Linked DNA regions of Homo sapiens: region 2 is linked to region 1. Evidence: fine-mapped expression QTL. A gene starts in region 1. The other region holds a variant in brackets. All regions are shown on one strand. Distances are between the middles of the regions.

What was found.
Region 2: its variant is fine-mapped to the expression of CDC34 in whole blood (TOPMed, PIP 0.92).

What each region holds. Positions count from the first base shown.
Region 1 is chr19:526,436-535,841 of GRCh38, forward strand. It overlaps CDC34 (cell division cycle 34, ubiquitin conjugating enzyme), which reads left to right and starts at 5,325. Exons shown (of 5, transcript NM_004359.2): 1 at 5,325-5,673; 2 at 9,402-9,406. The coding sequence starts at 5,497. RefSeq lists silencers at 4,830-5,569, 5,990-6,159, 9,284-9,406 and enhancers at 5,366-6,022, 6,420-6,469, 6,540-6,699, 7,682-8,258, 8,259-8,834 and 3 more.
Region 2 is chr19:548,103-557,508 of GRCh38, forward strand. It overlaps GZMM (granzyme M), which reads left to right. Exons shown (of 5, transcript NM_005317.4): 3 at 440-575; 4 at 820-1,083; 5 at 1,528-1,820. The coding sequence ends at 1,689. Among named protein-coding and RNA genes, the nearest start is that of GZMM, 8.8 kb to the left of the region's middle. RefSeq lists a cis regulatory region at 7,660-8,898. The variant G/C (reference allele first, on the strand shown) is at 5,045.

The sequences.
Region 1 (9,406 bases):
CACAGATTCTGGGGATCAGGATGTGGATGTCTTGGGGGCCTTATTCCCTCTTCCACGGTGAGGAACTGGCCCGGGACTGCACAGAGGAAAGCTGACCTGGAAGCCTGTTCTGATGCATCTGGAAGCACACGGGCCCCACAGCCTTTTGCGTTTTTCCCCTTTTTTTTTTTTTAGACAGGGTCTCGCTCTGTGGCTCAGGCTGGAGTGCAGTGGTAAAATCACAGCTCACTGCAGCCTCAAACTCCTGGGCTCAGGCGATCCTCCTGCCTCAGCCTCCCAAGTAGCTGGGACCACAGGTATGTACCATCACACCTGGCTGCTTAAGAAACATTTTTTTTTTTTTTTTTTTTTTTTTTTTTTTTTTTTTGTGGAGACGAGGTCTGGCCATGTTGCCCAACGCCCCACAGCTGCTGTGTCCTGGCTCCCTGTCCCTCTCCCCTGAGGACCATATCCTCCCACATGCACCCCTCTGCCTTCTGAGAACTGTCTTTCTTCCCTACAAGGCATGAGAGCAGCAAGATGCCATCGTGTAAGAGTCTCAGTGACATCTTGGGCTCCACAGGAAGACCTTTGTACAACTATCTTATCTAACCCACTTTCAAATTAAAAAACTGAAAGTCGGGCTGGGCGCGGTGGCTCATGCCTGTCATCCCAGCAGTTTCAGAGGCCGAGGCAGGCGGATCACCTGAGGTCAGGAGTTCGAGACCAGCCTGGCCAACATGGCGAAACCCCGTCACTACTAAAACTACAAAAATTAGCCGAGTATGGTGGCGCACCTGTAATCCCAGCTACTCGGGAGGCTGAGGCAGGAGAATTGCTTGAACCCAGGAGGCAGAGATTGCAATGAGCCAAGATCGTGTCACTGCACTCCAGCCTGGGCAACAGAGTGAGACTCTGTCTCAAAATAAAATAATAAAATAAAATAAAAAACTGAAACTCATAGGCCAGGCACGGTGGCTCATGTCTGTAATCCCAGCACTTTGGGAGGCCAAGGAGGGTGGATCACATGAGGTCAGGAGTTCCAGACCAGCCTGGCCAACATGGTGAAACCCCATCTCTACTAAAAATATAAAAATTAGCTGGCATGGTGGCACAAGTCACCCACTTGGGAGGCTGAGGCAGGAGGATCACTTGAACCCGGGAAGCAAAGGATGCAGTGAGAAGAGATGGAGCCACTGCGCTCCAGCCTGGGTGACAGAGCAAGACGCCATCTCAAAAAAAAAATAATTAAATAAATAAATTAATTAAATAAACCTGAGACTGGGTTTAATGTTTGAGCGATATTTCCAAGGTCGTGGCAGAAACTAGATTTGAATTTAAGGTTCTTCTCTGCCATGTGATGGAAAACCTAACTCAAACTGGCTTAATTAACGAAGAAGGAATTTATTTTTACTTATTTATTTATTTTTGAGATGGAGTTTCACTCTTGTTGCCCAGGCTGGAGTGCAATGGCGTGATCTTGACTCACCACAACCTCCGCCTCCCAGGTTCAAGCGATTCTTGGGCCTCACCCTCCCGAGCAGCTGGAATTATAGGCATGTGCCACCACGCCCGGCTAATTTTGTATTTTTAGTAGAGACAGGGTTTCTCCATGTTGGTCAGGCTGGTCTGGAACTCCTGACCTCAGGTGATCCACCCTCCTCGGCCTCCCAAAGTGCTGGGATTACAGGTGTGAGCCACGGCGCCCGGCACGAAGAAGGAATTTAACCTGGTTGTGGTGGTGTGCACGTGTGGTCCCAGCTACCTGGGAGGCTGAGGTGGGAGGACTGTTTGAGCCCAGGAGTTCAAGGCCAGCCTGAGCAACAGGAACGGGGGCAGGGAGGGAGGAAAGGAAAATAAACTAAAAAGGCTGGGCGTGGTGGCTCACGCCTGTAATTCCAGTACTTTAAGAGGCCAAGGCAGGAGGATCACTTGAGGCTGAGAGATCGAGACCAGCCTGGCCAACATGGTAAAACCCCATCTCTACTAAAAATTCAAAAATTAGCTGGGTGTGACAGTGCACGCTTGTGATCCTAGCTACTTCGGAGACAGGTGGGAGGATTGCTTAAGCCTGGGAGGCAGAGGTTGCAATGAGCTGAGATTGCGCCACTGGACTCCAGCTTGGGTGACACAGAGAGACTCCATCTCAACACAAACGAACTAAGAGGCAAGAATTCATGAGCTTGCATCATTGGAACATCCAGGGGAGGTCAGGTAACAGCATGATGCAGGATCACTAATAGGATTATCAACGTTTCCCCTCTCATCAGCCGGCTCGGCTTTCCTGTGATGCCGCCTTTGTTCGGAGGCCCCGTGGTGACACCATGACCCCGTAACTCCAGCCCCAGGTCCTTCCAGCTCAGCCACCCCAGCACTGTGATCCCAGAGAAATGTCCCAGAGCTGAATCTCATTGGACGTCAGGAGTCACATGCTTGTTCCTGAACCAATCATTGCAGCCCAGGGTGGGGGCCCTGGGAACTGATGGGATGGCCCCTCCCTGCAGCCAGGGCTTGCGTCAGTCCAATTCGAACCCGTTCCCACAGAGTAGGGAGCCCCCAAGCAGGCAGGTGGAAGCCCCTGGTGTCCACCGCTCCCGGGTGCTGTGAGCCTGAGCCTCCCTGGGGGTCGGGGCCCTGTGGGACCAGCTGGAGGGGCTTGAAAATCTCCCCAACCCAGGCCGGGCGCGGTGGCTCACGCCTGTAATCCCAACACTTTGGGAGGCCGAGGCGGGCGGATCACGAAGTCAGGAGATCAAGACCATCCTGGCTAACACGGTGAAACCGCTTCTCTACTAAAAATACAAAAAATTAGCAGGGCGTGGTGGCATGCGTCTGTAGTCCCAGCTACTCAGGAGGCTGAGGCAGGAGAATCACTTGAACCCGGGAGGTGGAGGTTGCAGGGAGCCAAGATCGTGCCACTGCACTCCAGCCTGGGCGACAGAGCAAGACTCCTTCTCAAAAAAAAAAAAAAAAAAAAAAAGCGAGAGAAAGAAAACCTCCCTCACCCACACAGTGCTTCCTGGGATGTGGGTGTACGGAAGAAGAGAGATCTTGGGAGCCCTTAGAGAAGGAATCGTGGTTAATTCTAATTAGCATTAATTTACCCATGAGCTGCTGCCTGCCGGCTCCATGATGCTGGCAATATATCCACGACCTGTGGCACGGAAGAGACTGAGGCTCACAAAACCCTGGGAACCTTGGTGAAGGGGCCACAGCCAGAAGGCCCCACTAGTCCCGAGACCCTCCTTTTACTCCAGGCCCCCAGGGTGCCGGGCAGAGGGGCCTGAGGGAGGAGGCCCAGAGGCCCTTACGGGTGAGGACGCCTCGGCCTCGGCCCTGGACAGCTCTGGAAGTGACCGCTCGGCCCAGAGCTCTTTCTTGGATCCCTCCCTCCCTCTCCACTCCTGATGCTGTTTTCCTTTCCCCAGACAGGTTTGCCTGCTGGTCCTCTTCCGGGGACCAGACTCATGAAGCCGGGGCCAGGTGTTGGGGCACCTGCGGGACAGAGTGGCCCTGGTCCCAGACTGGTTTTTGTTTTTGGTTTTTTTTTTTTTTGAGACGGAGTCTCTGTCGCCCAGGCTGGAGCGCAGTGGCGCTATCTAGACTCACTGCAAGCTCCGCCTCCCGGGCTCACGCCATTCTCCTGCCTCAGCCTCCCGAGTAGCTGGGACTACGGGCGCCCGCCACCACGCCCAGATAATTTTTTGTATTTTTAGTAGAGACGGGGTTTCACCATATTAGCCACAATGGTCTCGATCTCCTGACATTGTGATCCGCCCGCCTCGGCCCCCCAAAGTGTTGGGATCACAGGCGTGAGCCACCGTGCCCGGCCTGTATGTTGATGCAGCTGTGTGTACCCAGGGCATAGCAACAATGCCACTGGCACAGTCCGAGGGCAGGGCCACCCGTCACGGGCACGACTCAGGGGAGGCTGGGCTGCCCCGTCCTCACCACGGCCAGTTCTCCCGACCAAGCTTCACAGCAAGGAGCATGTGGGTGTCTGGGCAGCCACTGAGCCAGGTCAGAAGTCAGGTGGGGTCACAGTGATGCCCGGAATCAGCTGGGGTCAAGACTCAGGTGGGCTGGGCGCGGTGGCTCATGCCTATAATCCCAGCATTTGGGAGGCCGACGCAGACGGATCCCTTTATTAGTCCAAACTGCATCCTCCCCTTCCTTTCAAAACCTAACAACACACTTGAGGTCAGGGGTTCGAGACCAGCCTGGCCAACATGGTGAAACCCCATCTCTACTTAAAATACAAAATTAGCCGGACGTGGTGGCGGGCACCTGTAATCTCAGCTACTCGGGAGGCTGAGGCGGACACTAGCTTGAACCCGGGAGGCGGAGGTTGCAGTGAGATTGTGCCACTGCACTCCAGCCTGGGCCACAGAACGAGACTCTGTCTCATTTAAAAAAAAAAAAAAAAAAAAGACTCGGGTAGGACAAAGGTCAGGCTGGGAGGAGGGCACAGCCAGGCTCGGGCTCAGCTTGGGGTGGGGGCTCCGTGGGGCTGGCGCCTCTCCCGGGTCAGGTGCTGAGCCGATGCTGGCCGGCGTAGGCCTCTTTCCCAGTTTCTCTGGGGGGCAGGAGCACCTTGCCAACCTCTGATGGCTCCAGCGCCTGCACTCGCCTCACACCACATGGTGACTTCAACGGGGACCAGGGAAGCCCTCGCCCCTCCCACCCCTCAGAGCCCTCCCCGACCTCGCCCACTTCTCAGAGCTCCCGCTGTCGGGGGAACCGAGGCAGCGCCGCGCCTGGAAGCCAGGTCTGCGGATCCCGCCTCGCTCCCGCCCCTTCCTCCCTTCCGCGTGGCCAGCGCGACCCTAGGACAGACTTCGCGCCCGTCCCCTGCACAGACGGGGAAACGGAGACGGGGACGCGGGGTCGCGCCGGATGGACCGGCCCTGCCCCTCCGGTCCCGGTCAGGACCCCGCGCCGCGCCCCGTTCACCGCCCGCGGCCCCGCCCCGCGCCGGCACGTCACAAAACAACCCCAAAGCCGGGGGACCGGGCCGGTGACGGCGCAGAGCAGCCCTGCCCGCCTCCTTGCGCACAGCGTCCGCGGTGCTGGTCGAGCAGGGGGCGACGGCGGCGGCCTCGGGGATCGGAAGAGCCCGGGGCTGCGCGCTCGAACCCTCCCTCCCGGCGGAGGCGCTCGGCGCCGTAGGCGGGACCGGGGCCGGGACTCCACCTCCCGGCGTCCCCTGCGGCCGGGCGCGCAGGCGCAAGTCGGACCTGGCCGCGGAGCGCAGGCGCAGTCGGGGCCAGGCGGTGCGCGCAGGCGCAGCGGGGGGCGGGGCGCGCGGGCCCGGCCAAGGCAAGCGCCGGTGGGGCGGCGGCGCCAGAGCTGCTGGAGCGCTCGGGGTCCCCGGGCGGCGGCGGCGGCGCAGAGGAGGAGGCAGGCGGCGGCCCCGGTGGCTCCCCCCCGGACGGTGCGCGGCCCGGCCCGTCTCGCGAACTCGCGGTGGTCGCGCGGCCCCGCGCTGCTCCGACCCCGGGCCCCTCCGCCGCCGCCATGGCTCGGCCGCTAGTGCCCAGCTCGCAGAAGGCGCTGCTGCTGGAGCTCAAGGGGCTGCAGGAAGAGCCGGTCGAGGGATTCCGCGTGACACTGGTGGACGAGGGCGATCTATACAACTGGGAGGTGGCCATCTTCGGGCCCCCCAACACCTACTACGAGGGCGGCTACTTCAAGGTGAGCGCGGCGACCCCCGCCCGGGTCCCGGAGCCCACGAGCGACCTCGGGCGCCGGGAACCAGCTCCCTGCCCCGCGGTCCTAGCGCTGTTGCTGGGCGGGCCCCGAAGCCTCCTGGCTTGGGCTCGTTTCCCTTCTATGGCCACGTTCCCCCACCCAGCTCTGCCCGGCCCCCTCCTCGGACCGTCTCGGGGACCTTCAGCCTCTGCTGCAGTCCTCGAAAATCCCCAGTTCCCTTCAAGGCATCGTCCGGTCCCCTGTTAGGCTCTTGGCCCCCGGAGGGGTGGCCGGGGGCCCTCCCTGTAGCATCTGGGCGTGGGGCTCTTGCCCACCTCCTCCTTGGCGGGGGCTGGACCCCGGCTGCCTCCCCCTCCGCCCCTGCGAGAAAGAGGGAGCGGAGCCCAGGCCGCGCCGGCCTTTCAGCTGCCCTCCCCGCCCTCCCCGGAGGAGACAAAGAGGCCCCCCCAGACCCCGTAGCTGCTATTGTTGGGGAGCTGGGCCCGTGAGCGGGGGAGCGAGGCCAGCCTGGGGGTGGCTGGCGCGGCCACTCGCTCAGTCTCCAACAAAGGCCCGGATGAGCCTTGGCAGCCAGGACCCGCCTGGAAAGCGGCCACCCTTGCCAGTAGCAGCCGGCCAGGCGCCCTGGGCTCCATCCCCTGCTTTATGTAACCTGCGCCCTCGGGAAGGCCGAAGTAGGGGCGTGCCTCCCACCTGCTCCCTGCAGCTCTCTCCAGGCCTCCCGGCTCGGGCCCGCGTCCCGGACCCCGACCTCAGAAGCTCCGGGCTCGCTCATCCCAGCTGGTCTTGGCCTTTCTCAGAGTCCACTGAACAGGTGGCTTCTTGGGACCCAAACCCCGAGTTCTGGGCCGTTTCTTCTGCCCTCTGGCGGTTTAATTCCAAGCAGTTTCTGGATGTTTTTGTTGTTGTTGGGAGCGGGGAGGCTGTTTCTGTCTCATGTGAAAAGGACTCAGGCCAAAACCAGGGCAGTTTTCTTGATCTCACGATCCAGACGTGACCTTTGACTTCTTTTAGCGTTCAGGGACCTCGTTCTTGGGGCCAGAGGGACAAAGCGAGGGGCCCTGTGTGAGCGGTGGGGAACGAGCACCCTGTCCAGGAATCTCCCCCTCCCACCGTCACTTCCTGCCAAGAGCCTGGACACGACACGACACTGCAGGGCCCGGCCCGCTCTGCCCCGGCCAGCTGCGGGCGTGGGGCCGAGGGACCGATGCCTCCCGCACGATATGTGTCTGCTCTCCGAGCTAATTAGTGTCTGAACCGCACCCGCTCAGCGGCTGTGAGGGCAGCAGCCTGGTCTGCTGGGGGCGATTCCTGAGCAGAGAGTGGGACGCCCGTGGGTTCTGCATCTGGAATCCTGCGTCCCCACACAGGGAACAGAGTTTGGGTCTCGAGGTTGCCAAATGGTTTTAGCAGCTCCTCCGCCAGCCCCTTCTGTCTGCTTGGGGGAGCAGCTGGCTGAGGAGCCGCAGCCCCACCTCGAAGCCAGGCCTGTGAGGCGGCTGCTGTTCTGGAAGGAGGGGATGGGGGTTTCTGGCTGCTGTGCCCACCAGACCGGTTGCCAGGGATTGTGGGCAGAGCTTCCTGGGCCAGCATTAGGGGATAATCCGGTTTTCCGGATTTCCCAGGGAGGGGGCCTCTAGACATCTGCCACAGGGTCAGTCCTCAGAAGCCAGTGTTGAGACGGGGGTGCTGCCACCCACGAGGACTCTCCCTTCCCGCTGTGCCTGGGAGGGAGTTGGGGGAGCGTGGAAATACAGAACCTGCTGAGTGCCCAGGGCCGCTGCTGCCCAGCCACTGCCTGCAGCTGCTGTTCCTTCAGGAGCCAAAGTGAGCCCTGGGGCAGGGGCCGCCAGAGAGAGCCCTCCACAGCCGACTTGCTGTCTGCCCTTGGCAGGGCGCTTTCCTTTTCTGAGCCTGGGTTTGCTCCGGGGAAAAGACATTCTTAGAGGTGCCCAAAATAAGAGGCTCATTGGGACTTGGTGGGGTTTGGTACAGATGAGGCCTTGGCTGTTGTCAAGGATTGCCGCCTGAAACCCAGCACCAGGCTTGGGGGGCCTGAAGTCTTGGGGAACCGCAGGACAGTTCTGAGACTGAAGTTCCAGCCTTGCTCTGTGGCCGCGGCCAAGTCACTTGCCTTACGGGGCACCAGTGAGTTCCCTGTCAAACAGAGGACACCCCCCAAGACACCCCGCGTGCCCTCCCTGTCCAGGAGGGGCCCGTCCACGATCCAAGACCCCCAAAGTGCCCTGCCTGTCCGGGAGGGGCCTCGCCCACAATCCAAGACCCCCGAGTACCCTCCCTGTCCAGACCTCGCCCACGATCCAAGACCCCCTGAGTGCCCTCCCTGTCCAGACCTCACCCACGATCCAAGACCCCCTGAGTGCCCTCCCTGTCCAGACCTCGCCCACAATCCAAGACCCCCGAGTACCCTCCCTGTCAAGGCCTCGCCCACGATCCAAGACCCCCGAGTGCCCGCCCTGTCCAGACCTCGCCCACGATCCAAGACCCCCGAGTGCCCTCCCTGTCCAGACCTCGCCCACGATCCAAGACCCCCGAGTGCCCTCCCTGTCCAGACCTCGCCCACGATCCAAGACCCCCGAGTGCCCTCCCTGTCCAGACCTCGCCCACGATCCAAGACCCCCGAGTGCCCTCCCTGTCCAGACCTCGCCCATGATCCAAGACCCCCGAGTGCCCTCCCTGTCCAGACCTCGCCCACGATCCAAGACCCCCTGAGTGCCCTCCCTGTCCAGACCTCGCCCACGATCCAAGACCCCCTGAGTGCCCTCCCTGTCCAGGCTTCCACCACGATCGCTCTGGGGGTGCTGCTCTCGTGCCTTGGAGTGCTGAGTGCCACCAGGACCCCTGACCCAGACAACCTCTGTGTCTGGCACTGGGGCCCAGCAGGAAAACAGTGAGGCTTCCTTGTTTACCTGCTGTGGCCCAGGAGGGCCGTGGGTGGCATCACGCCCCAGGCTGCAGGCCAGACAGCTCTGTCACCTGGCACGTGGCTTCAGGCCTCCCTCTGTGGCCGTCCTTGCCAGCAGATCTGGACCTCCAGGGCCTGGGTGACCACAGGGGGCGATGCTGACAGGGAAGGAGTCCTGCCAGGTTTCTGTGACCTATGGGTCTGCCTGCCTGACCCCCCAAGACCGGACACCTGAGGGCAGACGGCCATACTGACTCATCCCCTCCCACGGCCTGGGCCAGGGCAGGTGTCACAAGTGTTTGCTAACTGAGCAATCATCTGTGCTAACCCTCCCCACACCCTGGCTGCCAAGGCCCTGGAGGTGCAGCCCTGGTCCTGGGCTTCAGCTCCATCCAAGGGGAGCCTGGAGCCCCTGCCAGTCCATTCTGTCTGCTGGTGGGTGCCCCTGGCCTGGGTCCCATATGCCTGACCTGGGCTGCCACGGGCCTGGAGCCACGCGGGCAGCCAGTGCCCACGTTCCCCAGCAGTTGTGCTGGGCCGGGTCCCGGCCACCTGGACTGTGTAGGAGCTGGGATCAGCTCGGGTGACTCAGAAAAGGCTTCAGGCAGCCTTCTGGGGACTTGACCCCAGGCCTGTGAGAGTCCCTGCCTTGGGCAGGATACGGTGTCCCTCACACACACCCTCAGGCACCAGCACTGGGAGTGGGATGGCCTTGGGCACCTTGTGAGCTGGGGCAGGTCTTGGGGCTGGGCTGGACTGAGCCACCTGCCTTCTGCCCCTGCAGGCGCG
Region 2 (9,406 bases), 22 kb after region 1:
CTCACAAGGTGGAAAGATTGACCCTCCTCAGTCCCATGGAAAGAGGGCTTGGCTCTCTAAAGTTGGGGCACACTTAGGAGGATTGGCATGTGTCAACCCCTGTACAAATCACTGTGGTTGAGCCTGGGGCCCCAAGTGAAGGGAATTCCCAGGGCTGGTTTTCGTGAAGCTGTAGGCTTGGGGTTGGATTTTTGGACACACAGCCCTTGCCTGGGGCCAGGGCCGGGCAGAAGTCTGGGGCAGGGGTGAGAGCAGGGAGGGCTTCCTGGAGGAGGTGGGTTGCAAAGACACAGGGAAGGACTGGCCAAGCCAAGGCCTGTGAGGGGCAGCGGCTGTGAGTGATGGCCATGGACAACGGGCACAGTGGGGGCCGGGACTGCATGTGGCGGGTCGTCCACGCCGGGCCAGGCCGCAGCACCCTGATTCCCTCTGTCCCCAGGATGGCCCAGCTGAGGCTGGTGCTGGGGCTCCACACCCTGGACAGCCCCGGTCTCACCTTCCACATCAAGGCAGCCATCCAGCACCCTCGCTACAAGCCCGTCCCTGCCCTGGAGAACGACCTCGCGCTGCTTCAGGTGTGCAGGGACGGGACAGGGAGAACTGGGCACCCTCCTGTCCCCCACGGGTGCCCCTCACCCCCACTGCGCCCTCCCCCCGCTGCCGACCCTCCCCCCGCACTGCTGCCCCTCCCCCCGCACTACTGCCCCCTCCCCCATTGCCCACCCTCCCCCCACTGCCACCCCTCCCCCCGCTGCCGCCCCCCGCCCCCGCACTCTCACCCCCTCCCCCTGCTCACCTGCCCCTTCCTGTCACTCGTAGCTGGACGGGAAAGTGAAGCCCAGCCGGACCATCCGGCCGTTGGCCCTGCCCAGTAAGCGCCAGGTGGTGGCAGCAGGGACTCGGTGCAGCATGGCCGGCTGGGGGCTGACCCACCAGGGCGGGCGCCTGTCCCGGGTGCTGCGGGAGCTGGACCTCCAAGTGCTGGACACCCGCATGTGTAACAACAGCCGCTTCTGGAACGGCAGCCTCTCCCCCAGCATGGTCTGCCTGGCGGCCGACTCCAAGGACCAGGCTCCCTGCAAGGTGAGGGGCGCCCGGGTGGGGCTGGGGGAATGAGGCTGGCGGGAGGGCCGGGGCCAGGGCAGCCGCCGGGCAGGTTCCTGGCTCTCCCGTTCTCTGGGGAGTCCTGTCAGGGGCTGGGGGGCGGGGAAGCACTGGCAGGGGTCCCGTTTCTCAGGTGCAGAAACTGAGGCTCAGACAGGTTTAGCAACCTGCGCAAGACCACACAGCCGGGAAGCGGCAGAGCTGTGACTTCTGCTCCAGCCAAGACGGTCCGGCGGGGGAAGAAGGAGCAGGGTTCACAGGGCCAGCGGGAGATGGGGAGGGGACACGCGTGGGCCGGGAGCAGCCCCTGTGTCTCCTTGAGCCTGGGGATAACAGGCCTGGCCCTGCTCCCCTCGGCGGGCCCTGCTCCCCTCGTCCCCTCAGCAGGTGCAGAGGCTGAGCTGCGGTGTGTCGTCCCTGCAGGGTGACTCGGGCGGGCCCCTGGTGTGTGGCAAAGGCCGGGTGTTGGCCAGAGTCCTGTCCTTCAGCTCCAGGGTCTGCACTGACATCTTCAAGCCTCCCGTGGCCACCGCTGTGGCGCCTTACGTGTCCTGGATCAGGAAGGTCACCGGCCGATCGGCCTGATGCCCTGGGGTGATGGGGACCCCCTCGCTGTCTCCACAGGACCCTTCCCCTCCAGGGGTGCAGTGGGGTGGGTGAGGACGGGTGGGAGGGACAGGGAGGGACCAATAAATCATAATGAAGAAACGCTCAGAGCCCGCCTGAGTCCCAGCCCACCTCTGTCCATGCTGGCTGTGGGGCTTCCGACAAACCTGTTTCCCTCAGCCTCCCGAGTAACTGGGTCTACAGGCGCCCGCCACCACGCCAGGCTAACTTTTGGTATTTTTAGTAGAGAAGGGGTTTCTCCATGTTTGTCAGGCTGGTCTCCAACTCTTGACCTTGTGATCTGCCCACCTCGGCCTCCCAAAGTGCTGGGATTACAGGCGTGAGCCACCGCGCCCGGCCCTTCCCTGTTTTAAAAAGGGAGGTTGTGGATCCCAAGGCTTCTCCCAGGAGGGGGCGGCGTTGGCCAGGACTGGAGCGGTGGCCGGGTCTGCAGGCTGGCAGGGGTGGGCGGCCGTCCTCCCCGCGTGGCTCCTGGGGCTGGGCCTTGAACAGCATCCCAGGATCTTCTTTTTTAGTAACAGCTTTTATCAAGTTACAACTCACATAGCAGATGAGTCTCCCTGTAAACTGCGATTCAGGGGCCTTTGGTACCTGCACAGAGCTGGGCAACCACCACCGTGACATGTCACCCCAGCACCCCGAAAACAGGCCCGTCCCCAGTCACCCCAGCACCCCGAAAACAGGCCCGTCCCCAGTCACCCCAGCACCCCGAAAACAGGCCCGTCCCCAGTCACCCCAGCACCCCGAAAACAGGCCCGTCCCCAGTCACCCCAGCACCCCGAAAACAGGCCTGTCCCCTGTCACCCCAGCACCCTGAAAACAGTCCTGTCACCCCAGCACCCCGAAAACAGCCCTGTCCCCACTGTCACCCCAGCACCCCGAAAACAGGCCTGTCCCCACTGTCACCCCAGCACCCCGAAAACAGGCCCGTCCCCACTGTCACCCCAGCACCCCGAAAACAGGCCTGTCACCCCAGCACCCCGAAAACAGGCCTGTCCCCCTGTCACCCCAGCACCCCGAAAACAGGCCTGTCCCCACTGTCACCCCAGCACCCCGAAAACAGCCCTGTCCCCACTGTCACCCCAGCACCCCGAAAACAGGCCCGTCCCCACTGTCATCCCAGCAGCCCGAAAACAGGCCTGTCCCCACTGTCACCCCAGCAGCCCGAAAACAGGCCCCATCTCTATCACCCCAGCACCCCAAAAGGAAGCCCCACCCCCATTGTCATTCCAGCACCCCGAAAATAGACTCTGTCCCCACTGTCACCCCAGCACCCCAAAAGGAGGCTCGTCCCCATCGGCCGTCACTCCCCGTCCCCACCCCAGCCCCGGTGCCCTCACATCCCCTCCCTGTCTCTGGATGGGCCTGTGCTGACATTTCATGGACAGGGGATCACGCTGCGTGGCCTTCTGTGTCTGGCGTCTCCCGCTGAGCGTGACGTCCTCAAGCTGCACCCGCGCGCTGGCTGGGTCCGAGCCGTGCTCCTGCTCCGGGGGGTCGAGCTCCAGCTCGAGGGGGGCCTCGCTGCGTTTGTGGGTGCGTCCCTGGGTGCACATCTGGGCGGCTTCGTCTGCGTCCGTCCGTCTGAAGCTTTGCTGGGAGCCGCCTGTGTGCGTTTTCGTGTGGACCTACCTGCTCCTTCCTCCCTCCAGATTAGACCCGTGGGAGTGGCATCTCGGGCTGTTCAGTGACTCTGTTTCAGCGCCGCGCTGTTTTCCTGCAGAATCTTTTAATTTCACTACCAACTCTTTCTTTCTTTTCTTTTCTTTCTTCCCTTTCTTCCCCTTCTTCTCTTTCCCTCCCTTCCCCTTCTTCTCTTTCCCTCCCTTCCCCTTCTCTCCCCTCCCCTCCCCTCCTCTCTCTTTCTTTCTTTCCTTTCTTTCCTTTCTTCCCCGTCTCCCCTTCCCCTCCCCTCCCCTCTCCTCCCCTCCCCTCTCCTCCCCTCCTCTCTTTCTTTCTTTCTTTCTTTCTTTTCTTTTCTTTTTTTCTTTTATTTTCCTTTCTTTTCTTCTGATGGAGTCTCAGTGCGTCACCCGGGCTGGAGTGCAGTGGCACGATCTCGGCTCACTGCAAGCCATCTCAGGTTCAAGCGATGCTTGTGTCTCAGCCACCTGAGTAGCTGAGGGATCACAGACGTGCACCACCACGCCCAGCTAACTTTTTTTGTATTTTTAGTAGAGACTAATAGAAACACAGGTTTCACCACGTTGACCAGGCTGGTCTTGAACTCCTGACCTCAGGTGACCCGCCCACCTCGCCCTCCCAAAGTGCTGGGATTACAGGCATGAGCCACTGTGCCCACGTTAATGGTTTTTTATTATTTTATTTTATTTTTAGACAGTTCCCACTCTGTTGCCCAGGCTGGAGTGCAGCCTCAGCCTCCCAAGTAGCTGGAATCATAGGGGTCCACCACCAAGCCCAGCTAATTTTTTTGGATTTTTACTAGAGACGGGGTTTCACCATATTGGTCAGGCTGGTCTCGAACTCCTGACCTCAAATAATCCACCCGCCTCGGCTTCCCAAAGTGCTGGGATTACAGGTATGAGCCACTGTGCCCGGCCGGGTTAGTGTTGTAATAGACTTAATTTTTAAAACCATTTTTGGTCTGCAGGAGATGTGTGGCGGCTGTATCCACAGGGTCCCCCGCGTCCCCGCCCCCAGGCTCCTGGCCGCTCCCCTCTCCAGTCAGCAGGAGTCACGGCTGACGAACTCACATGAATGCGTGATTAACTACTAAGGACCTACTCTTGGCTCGGATTTCCTCAGTTTCCCCTAATGTCTCTTCCTGCACAGGGTCCCACCCGGGACCGAACCTGCCGTTTCGCCGCAGCCTCTCCTCGGCACCCCCAGGCTCCGACCGTTTCTCAGAACTCCGTGTCTGGAGGCCGGCTGGACGGGATTTATGTAGATTACGGGTGTGGACCACTGCACCCGCCAGCTATCTCATGTTTTTCTCTCGATTGGACTGGAGTCACAGTGTTTTTGGGAGAGGCAAGTGCATTTTTAATCTTTAACTTTTTTAATTTTTTTATGTTATTTTTTTAGAGACTCCTGGGCTCCAGCAATCCTCCCACCTCAGCCTCCTAAAGGATTACAGGTGTGAGCCACCGCGCCCGGCCTAATCTTTAACTTTTTATGGCATCATTGGCAGTGGAAGGTTCTCAGGTCACAAGTGAAGAGCCTCATAACTCACAAACCAGGCACGCCCCTGTTCCCGGCACCTGGGTCCAGACACAACCCCCTGCCCCGAAGCCCCTCCTTAGCCAAGTACCCAAGTCCAGTCTCTTTTTTTTTTTTTTGAGATTCGAGTCTC[G/C]CTCTGTCCCCCAGGCTGGAGTGCAGTGGTGCAATCTCGGCTCACTGCAAGCTCCACCTCCTGGGTTCACGCCATTCTCCTGCCTCAGCCTCCCCAGTAGCTGGGACTACAGGCGCCCGCCACCACGCCTGGCTAATTTTTTAAATATTTTTAGTAGAGACGGGGTTTCACGGTGTTAGCCAGGATGGTCTCGATCTCCTGACCTCGTGATCCACCCACCTCGGCCTCCCAAAGTGCTGGGATTACAGGCATGAGCCACTGCGCCCCGCCCCAAGTCCAGTCTCTAACCCCAGAGATGGGCCCTGCCTGTTTGGGTTCTTTTTTTGTTTTTTGTTTTTGTTTTTGTTTTGACACGGAGTCTCGCTCTGTCGCCCAGGCTGGAGTGCAGTGGTGCAATCTCGGCTCACTGCAACCTCCGCCTCCTGGGTTCAAGCAATCCTCCTGCCTCAACCTCCCGAGTAGCTGGGACTATAGGCACGCGCCACCACGCCCGGCTAATTTTTGTATTTTTAGTAGAGACGGGGTTTCACCAGATTGGCCAGGCTGGTCTTGAACTCCTGACCTCATGATCCGCCAGCCTTGGTCTCCCAAAGTACTGGGATGACAGGGGTGAGGCACCACGCCCAGCCCCTTTGGGTTTTTAAATTGTTCATTCATGGCCAGGCATGGTGGCTCGCGCCGGTAATCCCAGCACATCGGGAGGCTGAGGCGGGCGGATCACGAGGTCAGGAGTTCAAGATCGGCCTGGCCAACATGGTGAAACCCTGTCTCTACGAAAATTACAAAAAAAATTAGCTGGGCATGGTGGTGGGCACCTATAATCCCAGCTACTTGGGAGGCTGAGGCAGGAGAATCACTTCAAGCCGGGAAAGGGAGGTTGCAGGGAGCTGAGATCACACCACTGCACTCTAGCCTGGGCGACAAGAGCGAGACTCCGTCTCAGAAAAAAAAAAACAAAAAAACCATAAATAAAAAATTTTTTAAAAAATGATAAATGTTTGCAACTCTAGCTATGTTAATGTCTGATCAGCACACATTGTATGTATTGAAACGTCACTATGTACCCCATGAATATGTACAATTATTATGTGTTCTTTTTTTTTTTGAGACAGAGTATTTTGCTCTTGTTGCCCAGGTTGGAGTGCAGTGGCACGATCTCGGCTCACCGCAACCTCCGCCTCCCAGATTCAAGCGATTCCCCTGCCTCAGCCTCCCGAGTAGCTGGGATTACAGGCACCCGCCACCACGCCCGGCTACTGTTTGTATTTTTAGTAGAGACGGGGTTTCGCCATGTTGGCCACGCTGGTCTCAAGCTCCTGATGTCGTGATCCGCCCGCCTCAGCCTCCCAAGGTGCTGGGATTACAGGCGTGAGCCACCGCGCCCGGCATGTGTTCATTTTTTTTTAAAAAAAAAAAAGGATAAAAAGGCCAGGCACGGTGGCTCACGCCTGTAATCCCAGCACTTTTGGAGGCCAAGGCTGGTAGATCACTTGAGCCCAGGAGTTCGAGACCAGCCTGGCCAACATGGTGAAACCCCGTCTCTACTAAAAATACAAAAAAATTAAAATTAAAAATAAAAACAAATAAAGAAAAGATAAAAAGAAAGCCAGGCCTCTTGGCAATGAAAGCTGCCCGGGGCAGCCCTCTCCCTCTTCCTGGTGCAGGTGTGTTGCCAGCGTGGATGTCCTTCGTGGACGTGAACTTATTTTACAAAAGAGCACTTGTCCAGAGCTAGTCCTGAGCCTGCGGTTTCTGGGAGTCACCAGCTCGAACGACGCAGGACAAGTACACTTTGGGGTGGCACGTCCTGGTGCTGTTATTTTGGGGTGGGGTGTCCTTCCGTGGTACGGCTGGACCACGTTGCCTCTGTCCACTCACTGCCCTCGAGGGATGGGTGAGCTGTTTCCACCTTTGGCTGCCGTGACCTGGGCTGCTGTGAACTTCGCAGACGTTTGTGTTTCTTTCCCGCACGGAAACTTGGACAGAAGCTCCTTGTCACGTCCCACAGTCACACGGCCCCTGCACGTGCTTAAAAGAAGCTGTGGTGTTTTTTTTTTTGTTTTTTTTTTTTTTGTTGTTGTTGTTTGCTTTTTTTTTTGAGACGGAGTCTCTGTTTCCAGGCTGGAGTGCAGTGGCGCAATCTCGGCTCACTGCAACCTCCTCCTCCCGGGTTCAAGTGATTCTCCTGCCTCAGCCTCCCGAGTAGGTGAGATTACAGGCACCCACCACCACGCCCGGCTAATTTTTGTATTTTCAGTAGAGATGGGGTTTCACCATGTTGGTCAGGCTGGTCTCGAACTCCTGACCTCAGGTGATCCACCCGCTTCGGCCTCCCAAAGTGCTGGGATGACAGGTGTAAGCCACCGTACCCAGCGGAAGCTGCGATTTTCCTTATTCCTTGACATCCTCAAGGGAGACCCTGATGTAGAGGCAGGGAGGCTAGGAAGGAGGAAGCATCCAGCCCAGTGGGGTGGACCCGTCAGAAATGCTCAGAGGCGGCCGTGCATGGTGGCTCACACCTGTCATCCCAGCATTTTGGGAGGCCGAGGCGGGCGGATCACCTGAGGTCGGGAGTTCCAGATCAGCCTGGCCAACACAGAGAAACCCCGTCTCTACTAAAAATACAATGTTAGCCGGGCGTGGTGGCGCATGCCTGTAATCCCAGCTACTGGGGAGGCTGAGGCAGGAGAATCGCTTGAACCCGGGAGGCGGAGGTTGCAGTGAGCCAAGATTGCGCCACTGCACTCCAGCCTGGGCGACAAGAGCAAAAAACTCCATCTCAAAAAAACAAACAAAAAAATGCTCAGAGGCAAGGGTTGAGCTTCCTCTCCAGCCTCCTCCAGAGGTCACAGGGCACCGCCCCACCCCACCCACCCCACCCACTGGGTCCTGGGGTGACTCCAACTGGACAGAGATCAGTGGAGGCCAGGCCAGGCTGGTGTTTGGTGAGCTGGAGCCACGCCCCGGGGAGAGAGCTAATCTCTGAGCCCGGACGTGCCTCATCAGTGGTTCCCTCCTGCTGTGCTGAGATGTCCCCACCCCAGCCCCGGTGAGTGACTGGGGACTTAGAGACACAGAACCAGCCACCAGCAGGAGGCTGACACCCTGTGTGGGACACGCAGTGCCCTGGAAGCCTCCACCCCTCCGTCTGTGTTTTCGTGGTTTTTTTTTTTTGAGACAGGGTCACCCAGGCTGCAGCGCAGTGGTGCAATCCTAGCTCACTGCAGCCTCAAACTGCTGGGCTCAAGCAATCCCCTTCCCTCAGCCTCCTGAGGAGATGGGGCTACACGTGTGCACCACCACGCCTGGCTAATGTTTGTAATTTTGCCGAGATGGGGTCTCAGTATGTTGCTTAATGGAGTCTCAAAGTCCTAGGCTCAAGTGATCCTCCCGCCTCGACCTCCCAAAGCGCTGGGATGACAGGTGTGAGCCACTGCGCCCTGCCAGCCCTCGCTGGTTCCTCCTGGTGTAAAAGGGAACAGCCGAGTGAGCATCTCCGGGTGGCCGGTGGGCAGAGCTCTGGTCTCAGGTGGTTTAAACTGGACAGGTGTCACCCGGGAGCTTGACAGTGACGTGGGACCACATGCTGGGTGACTTAAACAACAGAAGGCAGCCCCTCCCCGTCCTGGGGCCCGGAGTCTGAGGTCAAGGTGTGGGCAGGCGCCGCTCTCTGAGAGGCCCCACGGAGGAGTCCTCCTGCCTTCTCCAGCTCCGGGGGCGCCAGGCGTCCTTGGCTTGTGTCCACATTGCTGCAGTCTCTGCCTCTGTCCCCGCAGGGACGTCTCCCCATGTCTCAGTCCAAATGTCCCTCTTCTGATGAGGATGCCAGCCATTGCCTCAGGGCCACCCTTACAACTTTATCCTAACTACCTCTGCCAAATAAGGCCACATTCTGAGGTTCTGGGTGGGCGTGAGTTTTGGGGGGCACCGTTCTCCCTGGGAAGACGCAGACGCTTGTCGTCCCGTGGTAAATGCCAGAAGGCCTCATCTGATGCCCACGTACGCCCTGAGGTGGGGAAGCTGCTGTCCTCATCCTTGCTGAGCGTGGGGCCCCAGGATTCTCAGGCAGCTGGATGAGCCTGTGGAGAGGCCGGTGCCCAGGCTCGGTCCCAGAACAAAGCGCAGAGGCACGATGGTCGCTGACAAAGTGGGGGCCCCGGGACCCCAAACAGAAAGGTCCACAAAGGCTGAGGTCGGGGCAGGGGAATTTGATTCAAGAGACATTTTCAGCCATACGGCCCTTCTCGAATTTTTTTTTTTGAGACAGTCTCGCTCTGTCACCCAGGCTGGAGTGCAGTGGCGCAATCTCAGCTCACTGCAACCTCTGCCTCCTGGGTTCAAGCAATTCTCCTGCCTCAGCCT